2 separate regions of the Homo sapiens genome follow, and region 2 is linked to region 1. Evidence: fine-mapped expression QTL. A gene starts in region 1. The other region holds a variant in brackets. All regions are shown on one strand. Distances are from middle to middle. Region 1 holds the start of CRYBG3 (crystallin beta-gamma domain containing 3). Region 2 overlaps CRYBG3 (crystallin beta-gamma domain containing 3).

Region 1 (8,902 bases):
ATTTTACTTAATTTAAGCATTAAAAGATGTGTGTTCGAAAGATCTCAATCTCCACATGTTCCGCAAACAAAAACCAGACAAACAATACAATAAAACATCATGCATCTCATAGAAGTTGGAATAACCAATTACTTAAAAATTTTACCATCTGTTCTCATTGAAGCAGCAAGACAGGCATTTCCCCATGTTACAAACCATGATAATTAGAAAGTAACAATGAGAAATGCTAACATCATTTTTCCCCTTTTTTATTTGCTGTGGGAGTTCTTAATGAAAATTTGAGCATATAAACAAAGGAAAAGAGAAGATATTCCCCCCACCCCACCTCCTAATTGAGTGCTTATATTCAGTAATAGCTTTTTGCTGCCCTGGGCCGCATGACACTGCCTCATTTGGCCACGCACAGCTATTATTCTAGGAGGCAGCTAGTGAAGTGCCCCAATCCATCTGCTTGCTTTTTCATGGGCTGGTGCTTTCCTTGATGTTGACAGCTGTCTTAATATTCCTGGGCCACCTGCCACACAGTAAATACTGTGCTCTAAGATATATACAGAAGCTTATTCCCTGGTGGACTTTTCAGAACAAAAACGCTTAGCATTACTAAACTACTCTTGCAGTTTAAATGCTTCAAGGATCAACACTTTCATTCTATTCTCATACCTTTGAGAATGGTACTTACGTTGTGGGAATGGCAATTCAGTTACAGTGTGATGAACTTCAGGATTTCTCATATATCACACAAGTTATTGAATTACAGTATTATAGGTGGAAATCAGGTGCTAAAAGGAGGCAGAGAAGAAGAGAGCATATTAACAGTTATCTCCTCTAGTGAGCCTTCCAGGAACCCTTCAGATTAAGTTGGGGATCCGTCCTATGTTTCCCATCTTACCCCATTTGCTCATCTTGCCCAATTAAACTTGCTCCTTGATGTTAAGCATTTGGTCTTATCTATCACCGTATCTCTATGTCTAAGAATGAGCATGTATCTGACACATAGTATGCACTAGAGGACATATCCAGGTTTTGTGGGATCTGAAGTTTTTACAATTTGGAGGGTCCTCTTTAAAGAAAAAGGATTTAAAAGAAAATTAGATATAAAAATGAATATATTGAATGAAAACATAAACCATGCAAATTACTAATTTTAAAAGGTTGACTAGAAAAACAATTTGTTTTCTTACTAAATGCCTTGCACAATCACTTTTTTTCCTATATTTTTGGCAGTGTACTCTTCAATAGCCTTTCATATGACAATAATTTAGTAATATTATTTTCCATAATAATGAAAAGATAATGCAATCTTTCCTCTAGTTCTGTTTTTCTTATTGATAGAAAGGCTGTGTAAACATGCAGTACTACACACACACACACAAAGCTTGTGGTACTGCTACAGGTTTGTACCCTACAAACAAGAATTCTGATAAATTCTATTTTACATGGTTTACATCAACAAGAAAAAATGTTTTGTGTTTACAGTTATAAAAATTATTTTGGGTGGCTGAGACGGGTGGATTACCTGAGGTCAGGAGTTCGAGACCAGCCTGACCAATATGGTCAAACCCCGTCTCTACTGAAAATACAAAAATTAGCTGGGCATGGTGGTGGGCGCCTGTAGTCCCAGCCACTCTGGAGGCTGAGACAGGAGAATTGCTTGAACCCAGGAGGCGGAGGTTTCAGTGAGTTGAAATTGCACCACTGCACCCCAGCCAAGGTGACAGCGCCAGACTCTGTCTCAAAAAAAAAATTAAATATACTGCATTATTGAATATATTATTGCTATGAGAGAAATTACATCAATCGGAGGCAATCCTTCCTGTTGAAACTTTGTCTTCTGATGCCTGGAATAATTTTCCACATGACACCTGATGCTGCTTTACCTTTCAAATCTTGTCTCACCTCTATTACCCACATATTTTCAGTGTCAGAGACCACAGAATATATCTCCTCTGGCTCTGCATCTTGGGTGTAATACTTGGTGAGCTGCGCTACAAACAAATTGGAATTTAAGAAATAACTATACTTTGGAGAGGCTGGAAACCACATAAATATATTCCACTAAGTCCAAACTAAATATATTCCCAACTGAAATTCCCTAGCAGATTCCCAAATGCTCTTGATAACTCTAAGTGGAAAAGAAAATCTAAGTGGACATCTAAGTGGAAAAAAAAAGAGATTGTGGTCTTAATCACATTAAAACATTTACTTTTGTAAATTTGATAAAACTGGCCATGGATCCCATTGCTGAGTTCACACTGGAAGAGACTGTGCCAGCAGGGAGCCAAGAAACTTGAGCCTCATCGGCTTCACTGTAGATGTGCTTCTACTGCAGGCACTCACTAAACGTCGGGGAATAACTGGATCAGTGAATTAATGACACTGTGCTAAATTAGTATCTCTAAGATCCTTACAGCTCTAAAATTTGACATTTTTACAGGCTTCCTAATGCAATCTTAGAATTTAGTATTTAGAAATTTGTTCATATGAGTTCAGGTTATAACAATGTAGGACATATAGAAAACTAATAAGTGCTCAGAAAGCAAATGAAGGAAAATTCAATGGTCATTGTTTTATGACTTTAAGCTATTTTGTCATAGACGCAATTTGTCTTAGTGTAAACATGGCATTATTTGTATTTACCATTCACTTAAGTGCTTTGCTGTGCTACCGAGTGGAGATCAGAGTATTGTTAGATATATTATTAGTTAAAACCATAATTCATTAATTAAATCCTATTGACTCCCCCCCATTTTTATTCCAAGAAAAACTTCCTGAACGAAGTACCCTCTGGGTAGGCACTGGGGCCTGGTTTGATCACAGAACAAGTCAGGGACAAATGTGATAGTCATTCAATAATACGTTGGGAAGACAAATTATCATTTGGGCCTTTTAGCTGGAAGAAACAGTTTGCTTTATTACTCTCTTTGGGCTTTTTGGTAAGTGGGTCTTCAGTGGAGATTCTCTTATAAAATAATAAAGCTAGAATTGGGAACTTGTCTTATTCTAGTCTATTATCTTAGTCTTTTTCTATTTTCTCAGACTAGGCTCACAGAGAAATAGGAAAAATTTACCAAAGAGTAAAAAAGGATTAATCTTGAGGGATAGACTGAGATGAACCCGATTGATGGAAATCGGGCTGACTGAACTTTAATGGGTTAAATCCTGCCAGAACAAATGAGAATGAGTGTCTTGGCTCTATTGCAGTTAGTAGGAGCTGGAGGGCTTCTGGGAGGCAGCGTGGGGAGGCAGGGAGGCTCAATAGCCTCCAGCAGGTGCTGAAAGGACTTGGGGCTTATAGGTATGCAATCTACTTATGAGCAACCTTCTCCTCCAGCACCCGAAAGCCAGAGGGGAGATTACTCCAAGGCTCCCCTCTGCTGTGGACATTTCATTTTTATCTCATTTACTTGTATACATTTTTTAATGAACAAAAGCCATATCACTTCCTTGACGTCTACTCCAGGGGCAGCTTGCCTTCAAACAAAAACAAAACACTTGGGGTGAATGGGCCTCTCAGTATCTCCTGTACTAGCTGCTATAGGGTATGAAAAACCAAGAAAAATCCATACCACTGTACTTAGACTTAAAACAAGTCTTAAGCACCCTTTGGTTCCCAGATTTCAGTGGCATCTGTGTAACGACTGCAAAATATGTTGCAGCATTGACAAGCTTGAAATCATACTTTTTGATCAGTGCCGTTTTTGAAAGAGTTCGCAGGGAAGTATGGCGTGTGAAAAGTCTGAAGCACAGCGCGGTTAGGAAAAGTCACACCACAGAAAGCCAGCAGAACGCGCCGGGAGGTGGTGACCGCCTGACAGGTACCCCCTTCTCCCTCCCGCCGCCCGGTTCTGTGCTAACGCGACTTTCGCCCTCAGGGTTGGAGCTGTATTTGCGGTAGCTGTTTCTTAGCTCCCAGCAAGTCCGGGGCGCCCCGGTACTGCAGTTTGCCAAGTGTTTTCACAAACCTTAGTTCATAAACCTCTTTCAAAAGCCCGAAGAAAACCGTTTCTGTGCTCTGACTGTAGAATAGAAAACACAACGGTCACAGAAAGTAATTGAAGGCAAAGCCCAACAGGCTGCAGCCTGAACTTGTTTGAGCCGTAAGCCCGAGCCTAGCGTCGCACGCTGGGCGACTCCCCTCAGGCTCTCAGGCCGGCGCCTTCGGGGGACCACGTAGCGCCCCAGCGGTGGCGGCTGCGCCCGGCTCAGGGCGGTGCCGCGGCCACTGGCTCCTCCTCGGGGTGGGGCGGGCCGCGCCGGGCGAGGGCGGGAGGAGGAGCAGCCGCAGCGGCGTGAGGAGCTGCCGCGCGAGGAGCGCGTCGCGTCCGCACTTCTCCTGCCCGAGAGAGACTGAGCCGCGCTGGCAGCTCGCGTCGAGTCGGTCTGCCCTAGCCGCATCCCGCGGCGCCCGGTCGGGCTCCGGGCACCAGGCAACACCTAGGCCGTTCCCTTCAGACAGCCCCGGGCCAGCGGCCCCCTCGGGAAATGTCCAGCGGCCGCAGAAGGGGCAGCGCCCCCTGGCACAGCTTCTCCCGGTTCTTCGCTCCCCGAAGTCCTTCCCGGGACAAGGAAGAGGAAGAGGAGGAGAGGCCGGGGACGAGCCCGCCTCCAGCTCCAGGCCGGTCCGCTGCCAGGTGGGAGTCGAGGAGGGGGTCGCGGGGGGGCCCTGCACATATTCGCGGGATGAAGGCTCCCGGCCTGACCGCCGGCAGCGGGCCGCTCTTGGGCCAGGCTGCAGTTCGCTCGCCACTTTCTGTTCTCCTTCCTCCATTGCTAAAGTTTCCTCCTCCTTGCCCCGTTCCCGTGCCGCACTACTCGCCTCTCCTCTGCAGGTTAAATCGGGGTGAAGTTCTTGCCCGGCAGCCGGACGCATATCCCCCGATCCCCGCCTGGCTCCGCGCTCTTCCTTTCCCACTTTCCCCTGCCCGGACGTGATTGGGTTCCCGTTCCACACACGCTCTACTCTCCAAGTTCTGTGGCAAAAGCGATTTCCCCGGCGTCCCGCCTGCAGTAATGGGAAACACTTGTGAGCCGAGCGGAGCCGTCGGCCAGGGGAATTGGGGGCGCGATCCCAGCACCACTTGTGTGGGAGGAGATCGGGGCAAAAGTGGAAAAGGTAAAGCTTTGGGGCGTCACCCCCTCAGCTGGTATTTTTGCCATCTTATTTAAATTTTCTCAAAATGATTTTTAAAAGGAATTGTGATAATGCGTTCCCAAGACTTTCACCAAAATGGACTGGACATGTAAATGACGCCACCCTTCTTTATTTCTCATCTCTCCTAGAAACATCTGCCTCAAGTTCCCAAACAGATTCTGGAAATCAGGTTTCCAGCTGTCTTGGTTTCAGTAATCAAAATGTACCCTTTCTCTGTAATATTTTTATCTTTCCTTCACTTTCCCATGTTCAAAAATCAAAAAATTTTAGACATGCCTCATTTAAATGCCTGTTTCTGAGTCTTTTCATCCCCCCGAAGAAAGAGGGGTTAAGTAAAACGCAGCTCGCTTTCTTAAACTTATGAGAGGCTTACACTGTCTTCTCCCGAGATTGCACTAGAATGACCATTGTCATTGGAAGGACACACTCCAGAAAACCGTGTTTACTTCGGACTCAAGATTTCCTGGTGGGCTTAAAAAAAATGGATAGGAAACAGAACTGAGAGTGAGCCAATTCCATTAGTATTCAGATTTTGTGATGTGATTTTAGTCGTTTGTGTGTTCCTCGGTTTCCCCGCTTGTGAAACATTTTCATTATGACCGTCTGTTAATAACATGCCACATGTTTCCAAGAAAGCTCCTACGATAATTGAGTGGTTATTCTCCTGGGACGTTTCAGCTATTATTGCTCTGACTGTTGAGAGTTTAAAATTCAAAGTTACACAGAAGTTAAAAATAGTTTTTAAGTCTGACAGATCTCATCCAGGGTGTCAGCTAGTTCTGTTGGTGTGGGCAGACAGCCTGTGGTGCCTGCCACCGCCGTAACAGCACTAACAGTCTTGGATAATATGAACGCAGTCTGCAAGGAAATCCCAAGTAGGCGCAGCAAAAGTTGGGAACTTGAGAGTCAGTGTTAGAAAGGAGTAAGCAGGTCAAATTCAGGCTCATGTCAGTAATGGCCTGAAATCCTGCTTGCCTCTCTGCCCTATTTTGGCTTTTTAAGGCACTTCTCAATTCTAATTTCTTTACTGACTGGAGCTGACCCCTCCAGCAACTAGTTCCTTGTTCACCTACCACTTCTCTATTCTCATCATCTCCAGATTGGCACAAATTATGGCTTTTCAACGATGAAGATTTTAATTGTGCTTATATCAACGCTAATTTTGTTCTCATCTTTTTTGGAACTTGCCAGATGTTAGGGGGATAGCAGATGACCCTTTATGTGGGTGTTTTACTGTTTTAAATGAGCTTAAATCTTTCATTTCAAGGGCATAAACAAACACAAAGCCTTTATTGAAAGTTTAATAAAACAAATGGAACCGCTTTATAGTACTGAATGTCCCAGTAACACAACACCCTGATGTTAACAAGATTGGAAACAGAATTGCAATTTGTCACTGTGATCTTATTTCAAAATGAAAGAGTATTTTGGCTATTTCTCTTTGTGGGCATAAAAACTTTTATCATTATGAGAGCTGGGTATACCTTCTGTAGTGATGATTTTAGATGAAGAGGAGTACAAAATTAAAAAATAAACTAAAACATAATTATGAGACCCGTAAAAGTCGAATTTACAACATCCTGAAACTGTTTTTTTGCCTGCTCACAAAATGCGTACTGGGACAAACACCAGGTCTTTGGGGAGCTGCCATGCCTTGATACAGGTCTTCCAATATTTTACTGTTTTGAACCATAGGAAAATCTTTGTTTTTATGGTGTGCTGTGATTTATATGGGCTTCAGTTGGTGACAACACTTCATTATGTATTCTTTCTTTGTCACAATTAAAGAAGGCCTATTAGCATCAACACTATTGTATATCCCAACTTAGGCGTAGGCACTCAAATTGCTTGATTGTACTCATATTAGGTGGTTGACCATTTCCAGGAAATGCTTATATTAATTTATTTTAGATGATAAAAAGGAAAACTGCAATTGAAGTTTTCATAGGAAACTCAAAAACTCCCAGAGTTCTGTGGATCCCAGTTTGAGAATCACTGGTGCAGTGTTAAGCCCAGTTTATAAGCATACAAGGAATGGACTCATTAGAAGTGATAGGGGAGACCAGGAAGTGCTTCCTGGTAGGGATGATTTTAACTGGGTCTTCAAGGAATTGGTGATGTTTCTATACAAAGAGAACTTAGGAAGAGAGAGAATAGGGAACAGGTATTCCGGGAAAAGGCATTCCAGACTGAGCAAAGGCCTGCAAGGGGTTTATGATCTGTTAGGGGATATATACATTAATGGGACAGAGTGAAAGGAGCAGTAAGAAATTTAGGTTGGAACTGGGTTATAAAGGTCTCTAGACAAAATGTTTGGCTCTAGATTTAAGGCTCAGAGAATTTTTGCAAAAGCCTGTTATACAGATATTGCTGAAATATGAAACTTGGAGGAATTCCTGCCTTTATCTGCTTCAAGAAATGATTGCTCAACTTTGTTTCTTGGCTGTATCATGCATGATGGACCTGTTTAAAATGAGTTCTGTGCAATGTTTGTAACTGTGAAGAGAGATGGTAAGGTGAGAACAGTATTTATCAAGGGCTGACTGTGCACTTACTTCTGGGCTGGGTACTTTTACTTGCAACGTATCATGTAAATCTCACACTCAGTGTGAAATGTTGGTCCACTTTTACGATCTGACAATTGAAGAAACTGAGTTTGGGAGAGTGCTCAGTGATGGATGCTATGGGCGTTTTGAATGGAACAATTCTTTGAACTGGACTCTTTTGTCCTTTGCAAGATGTTTGGTATCCATGATTACACACACTAATTGCCAGTAGCATCCTCTGGTCATTGGGATAACTGAAAATTCCTCCACCCAGGTGGGTGGGAGGGAGAGTGATACCACTCCCAGTGGAGAGTGATTACCCTAAATCGTGAGAGGAGGTGAATGGGTGGGACCAGGCTGCTAATGAGCTGTGGTGTAGGAGGTACTCTGTACTGTCAGAAATGTCAGTAGTACTTCTGATGACCAGCATGGGAGAGCTATTGGCCTTCAGGTTAAACTACCAGTGTTGACAACAGCATCAGTTATGTGAGGAAAGGAAGCTTTGTTTTCTAAATTGTCATGATGATTGCATTTTTATTGATTTGAAGCACTAAAAATAATTGGTAACTAGTTAGTTGGATAGGAGATACCTGTGTCACATCAGCAGTTCATGCCTTCAGTAGTGAAGATGACGAGAGAATTCCAGAAGTCTTTAGGGGTGTGTAATTTGTGAGAATCTTGTCCCCCTCTGCTCCTCTAGGTTAATTCAAAGCAAAAGCTTACTCTTGGCAGCAGAGTCAAAATATAGCCTGTTGTAGGGTATCAAAAGTCCACCTTTTCCAAGTGATTTCCATCTCTTGGGTTCAATAAGGTGTCTACCAGATGGCTAATTTGGGAATTCTATTTTTTGCTGTGAACATTCCTTGGAAATGGACTCAATTGTATGCTCTGAAAGTGTTAAAGTTGCAAAGGTACCACAAATTGACCTGCAGTAAGTTTATATAATCAGAACTTCTAACTTTATTGACAGTTATAACATTTTTAAGTTTTTTTACTCATAACAGCGGAAAATATGTAAAAAGGGTAATAGCAAGTTTTGTAAAATAAGAGAAAATATTCCCTCAAGACAAAATATTTTCTATCCAAAGTTCTGATGAAATATACCAAAGTCCAGATATAAGAAACGTTAGTTACCAATTATTAAATAAAATGATAGCAACAAACTGTAGGTGGTTGTAAAATTAAGGAAAATAATCTAGGCTAT
Region 2 (8,902 bases), 86 kb after region 1:
ACATATTTCTATGAGGGAGGCTCAAAGGGCTAGAGAAAGTCTTATTTAGACAGGGAAGAAAGTTTCTCATAGAAACTATTTTAGTATTGGAGTAACTAAAATTACATTAAAAATAATGCTGATATTGTAGAATAAGTGAGCACAGCTGTGTTTTGTCAGTAGTTCATTGCATTTTTAGTTTGTCATATTAAAGATATATATTACCACATATTGTTAGTATATAAGTGAAAATTATGTAGCAAAAAGAATTTCTGTAAAATCTTCATAATATAGTGGAGATAATTTCTGCTCAATACTGGTAGTTCTAAGAAAGAAATACAATAATACATGTGAAAAGCAAACCAGAGGAATACTTTTTTTCCTTCGCTTCCATTTCCAGTTGGGGAGCTGTTAGGGATTGAGCCGTACCAACATGGCACAGAAGGATGGGTGTAGTCTGGAAAACACTCATCTCTTATTTGTCAATTTGCCTCGGTTTTAAGCAACCTGAGTTGTTTTGTATATTTGTTATCGATTGTTCTGTAAAGGTAGCCAACATGGTCATTTATCCAGCTAGTTTTTCCAAGGACTGAATTTCTCCAAGGCTCTGTCCTTAATTTCACCAACAGTAGAAACCACAAGTTAATTATTATAATCAGCAAGCTCAGAGTTGGTTTCTCTATGGACAATCCTCAGAACATTATTATGAGAATTGTTCTATTTTGAGGATTGATAAGGTGATCAAAGTGAGGCATATTTTTGTAGAATTGGTCTAATTCTGGGTGAATCATATACCATATCTCATCTAGTCAACTCAGATAAGCATTTAACCCAGTTTTTAAAGTTTGGACAAAGATTATTTTAACCCATCAAATCAAGAGATACTTTATAACATTATTTCTGCGTGTGTATATGAATTTTAATTGATTTTTCCGGGTATGAAGACTGAGACAAAAAACTGGAGGTGGCTACTGTATATACCATCTGAAATATGCTTCACTGGCAGTATCAGTAGTCCAGGATTTGATGTTTCATGGCTTCATTGTGAAAATGTTGAAGTATAAATCTTCAGCTCAGCAGTATACAACTAATAAACAAACTGGGAATGTAGTTAGTGAACAAGACAACCTGTCTCTCTTCTCATGCGGCTTTTCTTTTATTTTTATTTTTTTTATTTTTTATTTTTTTATTTTTATTTTTTTTTAAGTTTCTGAGTCTTTTTTTTATAATCTTTTTTTTATTATTATTATACTTTAAGTTTTAGGGTACATGTGCACCTTGTGCAGGTTAGTTACATATGTATACATGTGCCATGCTGGTGCACTGCACCCACTAACTCGTCATCTAGCATTAGGTATATCTCCCAATGCTATCCCTCCACCCTCCCCCCACCCCATGACAGTCCCCAGAGTGTGATATTCCCCTTCCTGTGTCCATGTGATCTCATTGTTCAGTTCCCACCTATGAGTGAGAATATGCGGTGTTTGGTTTTTTGTTCTTGCGATAGTATAGTTTACTGAGAATGATGATTTCCAATTTCATCCATGTCCCTACAAAGGACATGAACTCATCATTTTTTATGGCTGCATAGTATTCCGTGGTATATATGTGACACATTTTCTTAATCCAGTCTATCATTGTTGGACATTTGGGTTGGTTCCAAGTCTTTGCTATTGTGAATAATGCCGCAATAAATATACGTGTGCATGTGTCTTTATAGCAGCATGATTTATAGTCCTTTGGGTATATACCCAGTAATGGGATGGCTGGGTCAAATGATATTTCCAGTTCTAGATCCCTGAGGAATCGCCACACTGACTTCCACAATGGTTGAACTAGTTTACAGTCCCACCAACAGTGTAAAAGTGTTCCTATTTCTTCACATCCTCTCCAGCACCTGTTGTTTCCTGACTTTTTAATGATTGCCATTCTAACTGGTGTGAGATGGTATCTCATTGTGGTTTTGATTTGCATTTCTCTGATGGCCAGTGATGATGAGCATTTTTTCATGTGTGTTTTGGCTGCATAAATGTCTTCTTTTGAGAAGTGTCTGTTCAAGTCCTTTGCCCACTTTTTGATGGGGTTGTTTGCTTTTTTCTTGTAAATTTGTTTGAGTTCATTGTAGATTCTGGATATTAGCCCTTTGTCAGATGAGTAGGTTGTGAAAATTTTCTCCCATTTTGTAGGTTGCCTGTTCACTCTGATGGTAGTTTCTTTTGCTGTGCAGAAGCTCTTTAGTTTAATTAGATCCCATTTGTCAATTTTGGCTTTTATTGCCATTGCTTTTGGTGTTTTAGACATGAAGTCCTTGCCCATGCCTATGTCCTGAATGGTATTGCCTAGGTTTTCTTCTAGGGTTTTTATGGTTTTAGGTCTAACGTTTAAGTCTTTAATCCATCTTGAATTGATTTTTGTATAAGGTATAAGGAAGGGATCCAGTTTCAGCTTTCTGCATATGGCTAGCCAGTTTTCCCAGCACCATTTATTAAATAGGGAATCCTTTCCCCATTGCTTGTTTTTCTCAGGTTTGTCAAAGATCAGATAGTTGTAGATATGCGGCGTTATTTCTGAGGGCTCTGTTCTGTTCCATTGATCTATATCTCTGTTTTGGTACCAGTACCATACTGTTTTGGTTACTGTAGCCTTGTAGTATCGTTTGAAGTCAGGTAGTGTGATGCCTCCAGCTTTGTTCTTTTGGCTTAGGATTGACTTCGCAATGCGGGCTCTTTTTTGGTTCCATATGAACTTTAAAGTAGTTTTTTCCAATTCTGTGAAGAAAGGCATTGGTAGCTTGATGGGGATGGCATTGAATCTGTAAATTACCTTGGGCAGTATGGCCATTTTCACGATATTGATTCTTCCTACCCATGAGCATGGAATGTTCTTCCATTTGTTTGTATCCTCTTTTATTTCCTTGAGCAGTGGTTTGTAGTTCTCCTTGAAGAGGTCCTTCACATCCCTTGTAAGTTGGATTCCTAGGTATTTTATTCTCTTTGAAGCAATTGTGAATGGGAGTTCACTCATGATTTGGTTCTCTGTTTGTCTGTTGTTGGTGTATAAGAATGCTTGTGATTTTTGTACATTGATTTTGTATCCTGAGACTTTGCTGAAGTTGCTTATCAGCTTAAGGAGATTTTGGGCTGAGACAATGGGGTTTTCTAGATATACAATCATGTCATCTGCAAACAGGGACAATTTGACTTCCTCTTTTCCTAACTGAATACCCTTTATTTCCTTCTCCTGCCTAATTGCCCTGGCCAGAACTTCCAACACTGTGTTGAATAGGAGTGGTGAGAGAGGGCATCCCTGTCATGTGCCAGTTTTCAAAGGGAATGCTTCCAGTTTTTGCCCATTCAGTATGATATTGGCTGTGGGTTTGTCATAGATAGCTCTTATTATTTTGAAATACGTCCCATCAATACCTAATTTATTGAGAGTTTTTAGCATGAAGGGTTGTTGAATTTTGTCAAAGGCTTTTTCTGCATCTATTGAGATAATCATGTGGTTTTTGTCTTTGGCTCTGTTTATATGCTGGATTACATTTATTGATTTGCATATATTGAAACAGCCTTGCATCCCAGGGATGAAGCCCACTTGATCATGGTGGATAATCTTTTTGATGTGCTGCTGGATTCGGTTTGCCAGTATTTTATTGAGGATTTTTGCATCAATGTTCATCAAGGATATTGGTCTAAAATTCTCTTTTTTTATTGTGTCTCTGCCTGGCTTTGGTATCAGAATGATGCTGCCCTCATAAAATGAGTTAGGGAGGATTCCCTCTTTTTCTATTGATTGGAATAGTTTCAAAAGGATTGGTACCAGTTCCTCCTTGTACCTCTGGTAGAATTCGGCTGTGAATCCATCTGGTCCTGGACTCTTTTTGGTTGGTAATCTATTGATTATTGCCACAATTTCAGATCCTGTTATTGGTCTATTCAGAGATTCAACTTCTTCCTGGTTTAGTCTTGGGAGAGTGTATGTGTCAAGGAATTTATCCATTTCTTCTAGATTTTCTAGTTTATTTGCGTAGAGGTGTTTGTAGTATTCTCTGATGGTAGTTTGTATTTCTGTGGGATCGGTGGTGATATCCCCTTTATCATTTTTTATTGCGTCTATTTGATTCTTCTCTCTTTTTTTCTTTATTAGTCTTGCTAGCGGTCTATCAATTTTGTTGATCCTTTCAAAAAACCAGCTCCTGGATTCATTAATTTTTTGAAGGGTGTTTTGTGTCTCTATTTCCTTCAGTTCTGCTGTGATTTTAGTTATTTCTTGCCTTCTGCTAGCTTTTGAATGTGTTTGCTCTTGCTTTTCTAGTTCTTTTAATTGTGATGTTAGGGTGTCAATTTTGGATCTTTCCTGCTTTCTCTTGTGGGCATTTAGTGCTATAAATTTCCCTCTACACACTGCTTTGAATGCGTCCCAGAGATTCTGGTATGTTGTGTCTTTGTTCCCGTTGGTTTCAAAGAACATCTTTATTTCTGCCTTCATTTTGTTATGTACCCAGTAGTCATTCAGGAGCAGGTTGTTCAGTTTCCATGTAGTTGAGAGGTTTTGAGTGAGATTCCTAATCCTGAGGTCTAGTTTGATTGCACTGTGGTCTGAGAGATAGTTTGTTATTATTTCTATTCTTTTACATTTGCTGAGGAGAGCTTTACTTCCAAGTATGTGGTCAATTTTGGAATAGGTGTGTTGTGGTGCTGAAAAAAATGTATATTCTGTTGATTTGGGGTGGAGAGTTCTGTAGATGTCTATTAGGTCCGCTTGGTGCAGAGCTGAGTTCAATTCCTGGGTATCCTTGTTGACTTTCAGTCTCGTTGATCTGTCTAATGTTGACAGTGGGGTGTTAAAGTCTCCCATTATTAATATGTGGGAGTCTAAGTCTCTTTTTAGGTCACTCAGGACTTGCTTTATGAATCTTGGTGCTCCTGTATTGGGTGCATATATATTTAGGACAGTTAGCTCTTCTTGTTGAATTGATCCCCTTACCATTATGTATTGGCCTTCTTTGTCTTTTTTGATCTTTGTTGGTTTAAAGTCTGTTTTATCAGAGACTAGGATTGCAACCCCTGCCTTTTTTTGTTTTCCATTTGCTTCATAGATCTTCCTCCATCCTTTTATTTTGAGCCTATGTGTGTCTCTGCACATGAGATGGGTTTCCTGAATACAGCACACTGATGGGTCTTGACTCTTTATCCAATTTGCCAGTCTGTGTCTTTTAATTGGAGCATTTAGTCCATTTATATTTAAAGTTAATATTGTTATGTGTGAACTTGATCCTGTCATTATGATGTTAGCTGGTTATTTTGCTCATTAGTTGATGCAGTTTCTTCCTAGTCTGGATGGTCGTTACATTTTGGCATGATTTTGCAGCGGCTGGTACTGGTTGTTCCTTTCCATGTTTAGCGCTTCCTTCAGGAGCTCTTTTAGGGCAGGCCTGGTGGTGACAAAATCTCTCAGCATATGCTTGTCTGTAAAGTATTTTATTTCTCCTTCACTTATGAAGCTTAGTTTGGCTGGATATGAAATTCTGGGTTGAAAATTCTTTTCTTTAAGAATGTTGAATATTGG[C/T]CCCCACTCCCCTCTGGCTTGTAGGGTTTCTGCCGAGAGATCCTCTGTTAGTCTGATGGGCTTCCCTTTGAGGGTAACCCGACCTTTCTCTCTGGCTGCCCTTAACATTTTTTCCTTCATTTCAACTTTGGTGAATCTGACAATTATGTGTCTTGGAGTTGCTCTTCTCAAGGAGTATCTTTGTGGCGTTCTCTGTATTTCCTGAATCTGAACGTTGGCCTGCCTTGCTAGATTGGGGAAGTTCTCCTGGATAATATCCTGCAGAGTGTTTTCCAACTTGGTTCCATTCTCCCCATCACTTTCAGGTACACCAATCAGACATAGATTTGGTCTTTTCACATAGTCCCATATTTCTTGGAGGCTTTGCTCATTTCTTTTTATTCTTTTTTCTCTAAACTTCCCTTCTCGCTTCATTTCATTCATTTCATCTTCCATCGCTGATACCCTTTCTTCCAGTTGATTGCATTGGCTCCTGAGGCTTCTGCATTCTTCACGTAGTTCTCGAGCCTTGGTTTTCAGCTCCATCAGCTCCTTTAAGCACTTCTCTGTATTGGTTATTCTAGTTATACATTCTTCTAAATTTTTTTCAAAGTTTTCAACTTCTTTGCCTTCAGTTTGAATGTCCTCCCGTAGCTCAGAGTAATTTGATCGTCTGAAGCCTTCTTCTCTCAGCTCGTCAAAGTCATTCTCCATCCAGCTTTGTTCCGTTGCTGGTGAGGAACTGCGTTCCTTTGGAGGAGGAGAGGCGCTCTGCTTTTTAGAGTTTCCAGTTTTTCTGTTCTGTTTTTTCCCCATCTTTGTGGTTTTATCTACTTTTGGTCTTTGATGATGGTGATGTACAGATGGGTTTTTGGTGTGGATGTCCTTTCTGTTTGTTAGTTTTCCTTCTAACAGACAGGACCCTCAGCTGCAGGTCTGTTGGAATACCCTGCCGTGTGAGGTGTCAGTGTGCCCCTGCCTGGGGGTGCCTCCCAGTTAGGCTGCTCAGGGGTCAGGGGTCAGGGACCCACTTGAGGAGGCAGTCTGCCCGTTCTCAGATCTCCAGCTGCGTGCTGAGAGAACCACTGCTCTCTTCAAAGCTGTCAGACAGGGACATTTAAGTCTGCAGAGGTTACTGCTGTCTTTTTGTTTGTCTGTGCCCTGCCCCCAGAGGTGGAGCCTACAGAGGCAGGCAGGCCTCCTTGAGCTGTGGTGGGCTCCACCCAGTTCGAGCTTCCTGGCTGCTTTGTTTACCTAATCAAGCCTGGGCAATGGCGGGCACCCCTCCCCCAGCCTGGCTGCCGCCTTGCAGTTTGTTCTCAGACTGCTGTGCTAGCAATCAGCGAGACTCTGTGGGCGTAGGACCCTCCGAGCCAGGTGCAGGATATAATCTCGTGGTGTACCGTTTTTTAAGCCCGCCGGAAAAGTGCAGTATTAGGGTGGGAGTGAACCGATTTTCCAGGTGCTGTCCGTCACCCCTTTCTTTGACTCAGAAAGGGAACTCCCTGACCCCTTGCGCTTCCCAAGTGAGGCAATGCCTCTCCCTGCTTCGGTTCGCGCACGGTGCACGCACCCATGACCTGGGCCCACTGTCTGGCACTCCCTAGTGAGGTGAACCCGGTACCTCAGATGGAAATGCAGAAATCACCGTCTTCTGCGTCACTCACGCTGGGAGCTGTAGACCGGAGCTGTTCCTATTCGGCCATCTTGGCTCCTCCCCCTTCTTTTATTTTTTTAAAGATATTTCTATGCAGGAGAAATGTCTCTGCATTTTTTGGAGGTTAAAAGTGATTTGCTTTTTAGCCTCACATTTTATACATCTTTAAGTTAAAAAACCTAAGTATGTCTTGGTTTGGACTTCATTTCTTTGCTATCCTCTATATCTGCTAGGACTACAGCAGAAACTTGCTGGATCACATCTCCTTAAGGCAAGAAGTCCCTTGATGTTTTAATCCTCCAAATACAGTGTGGTTTCACAGTAGGAAGTGGTGTTGTGCAAGCCACAGATGATATGGGGAAGTAGTTTTCTCACCTCCCTGATTTTGACTGATCTTTGATAACAGATCAAGTAAGGTCAGAGCAGAATGAGATAACCAAGAAACAATTCTAAGTAGAGGCCTTTGGGAAGACGAGGGAGGTGAACATTAGCTGCTCAGAAAAGCCTTATCCTCGATGACAGCATGAGCAGATGGTTTGTTGTGATGTTCTGTGCCCTAGTGCAGGCCTGTCAGTGCAGGGTGGACCTGTGGGCCATGTTGTTCCAAGTCTCCAGTGTGTTATGAAATTTTTACGGGCTCTTTAATTTTTTTCATTCCTATTGTAGATTCAAGGCTACTAGAGTTGCAGATTATTATATATCTGGTCTAAAGGGAATTATAGTTGAGATTTCATGGATTTTTCTTGACAAAATTGACTAAAGTAGACATGTAGTTGTATATAACTGTAAGCTGCACATTTAAGGTATTCTTATCAGAAAACCGAAGCCTGTAAGCTGAAATACATAACACAGATATCTTTCTTTCTTCACCAGAAATCTTCCACTAATCCCGTCATTATTATCTCCTCTGCCATCTGCTTCTGTGCCCTCCTGGGCACTCTTAGTGCTTGCTTAAGGGCATGTGCTCGTGCTCTCCTCTTCTTATATTAACTGTGGATCAGGAAGAGCTAGGGAGAGAAGCAGCATACCATGTAGCCTCATACTAATCTAAGCCTCTTTCAGGTTTAGCACTAAATTGCTTCTTATTTTATACATCTAGTCTCAACATAGGGCATAATGATTTTTTGAGAGAATAAAGGACCACATGTTAGTGGAGGGAGGACTCTGATGTACTCTTCTAGGTAGAATTGATTTCTAGGCCTCTCTTCCCACAATTTGGTGGAAGAGAGGCAAGAAAATGGTAAACAAACAGTGACATTCCATTCCTGAATACATGTAAGAAAGCAAGTTTAAGGAGCATATCATTATCCCTAACATGAATTCATTGATAATAGATAAAACATGAGTCTGATATTTTGCTGCATTTTATAAATTCATGAAATTAAAGGTTTTTATTTGCTCGTGATCATCTAAGACCATTTTTTTTCTATTTAACTGTTGTGTTGTTGTTCTTGTAGCTCAAAGCATTCAGCAAACCAGGGTTCCAAGGTGAATGTATAGATTTTACAGAAGAAACTTCTGATTTGACTTCACTCATGCCATGTTCTTTTAAAGTTCTTCGAGGTTGGTAAGTATGCTTACTTAGTGGTTTCTGCTGTTATTTAATAACTAATACTTTTAAATTTACAGAGATATATTTTTTGCATGCACAGTGAATCCTTAAAATTTATCTTCAACAGGCATTTTACCTGCTAACTGGTCTATATTAATTTTGCTTAA

What was found. PIP is the estimated chance that this variant, and not a neighbour inherited with it, causes the effect. A credible set is the group of variants that fine-mapping cannot tell apart.
Region 2: its variant is the best candidate, but not a certain one, in a credible set for the expression of CRYBG3 in whole blood (INTERVAL, PIP 0.53).

What each region holds. Positions count from the first base shown.
Region 1 is chr3:97,817,725-97,826,626 of GRCh38, forward strand. CRYBG3 (crystallin beta-gamma domain containing 3) reads left to right here and starts at 4,287. Exons shown (of 22, transcript NM_153605.4): 1 at 4,287-4,631. The coding sequence starts at 4,483. It overlaps LOC101929298 (a long non-coding RNA gene), which reads right to left and starts at 4,052. Exons shown (of 3, transcript XR_427389.3): 1 at 3,963-4,052; 2 at 680-779. RefSeq lists a silencer at 4,064-4,433.
Region 2 is chr3:97,903,527-97,912,428 of GRCh38, forward strand. It overlaps CRYBG3 (crystallin beta-gamma domain containing 3), which reads left to right. Exons shown (of 22, transcript NM_153605.4): 16 at 8,641-8,750. Among named protein-coding and RNA genes, the nearest start is that of RIOX2, 64 kb to the right of the region's middle. RefSeq lists enhancers at 6,336-6,926, 6,927-7,516. The variant C/T (reference allele first, on the strand shown) is at 5,548.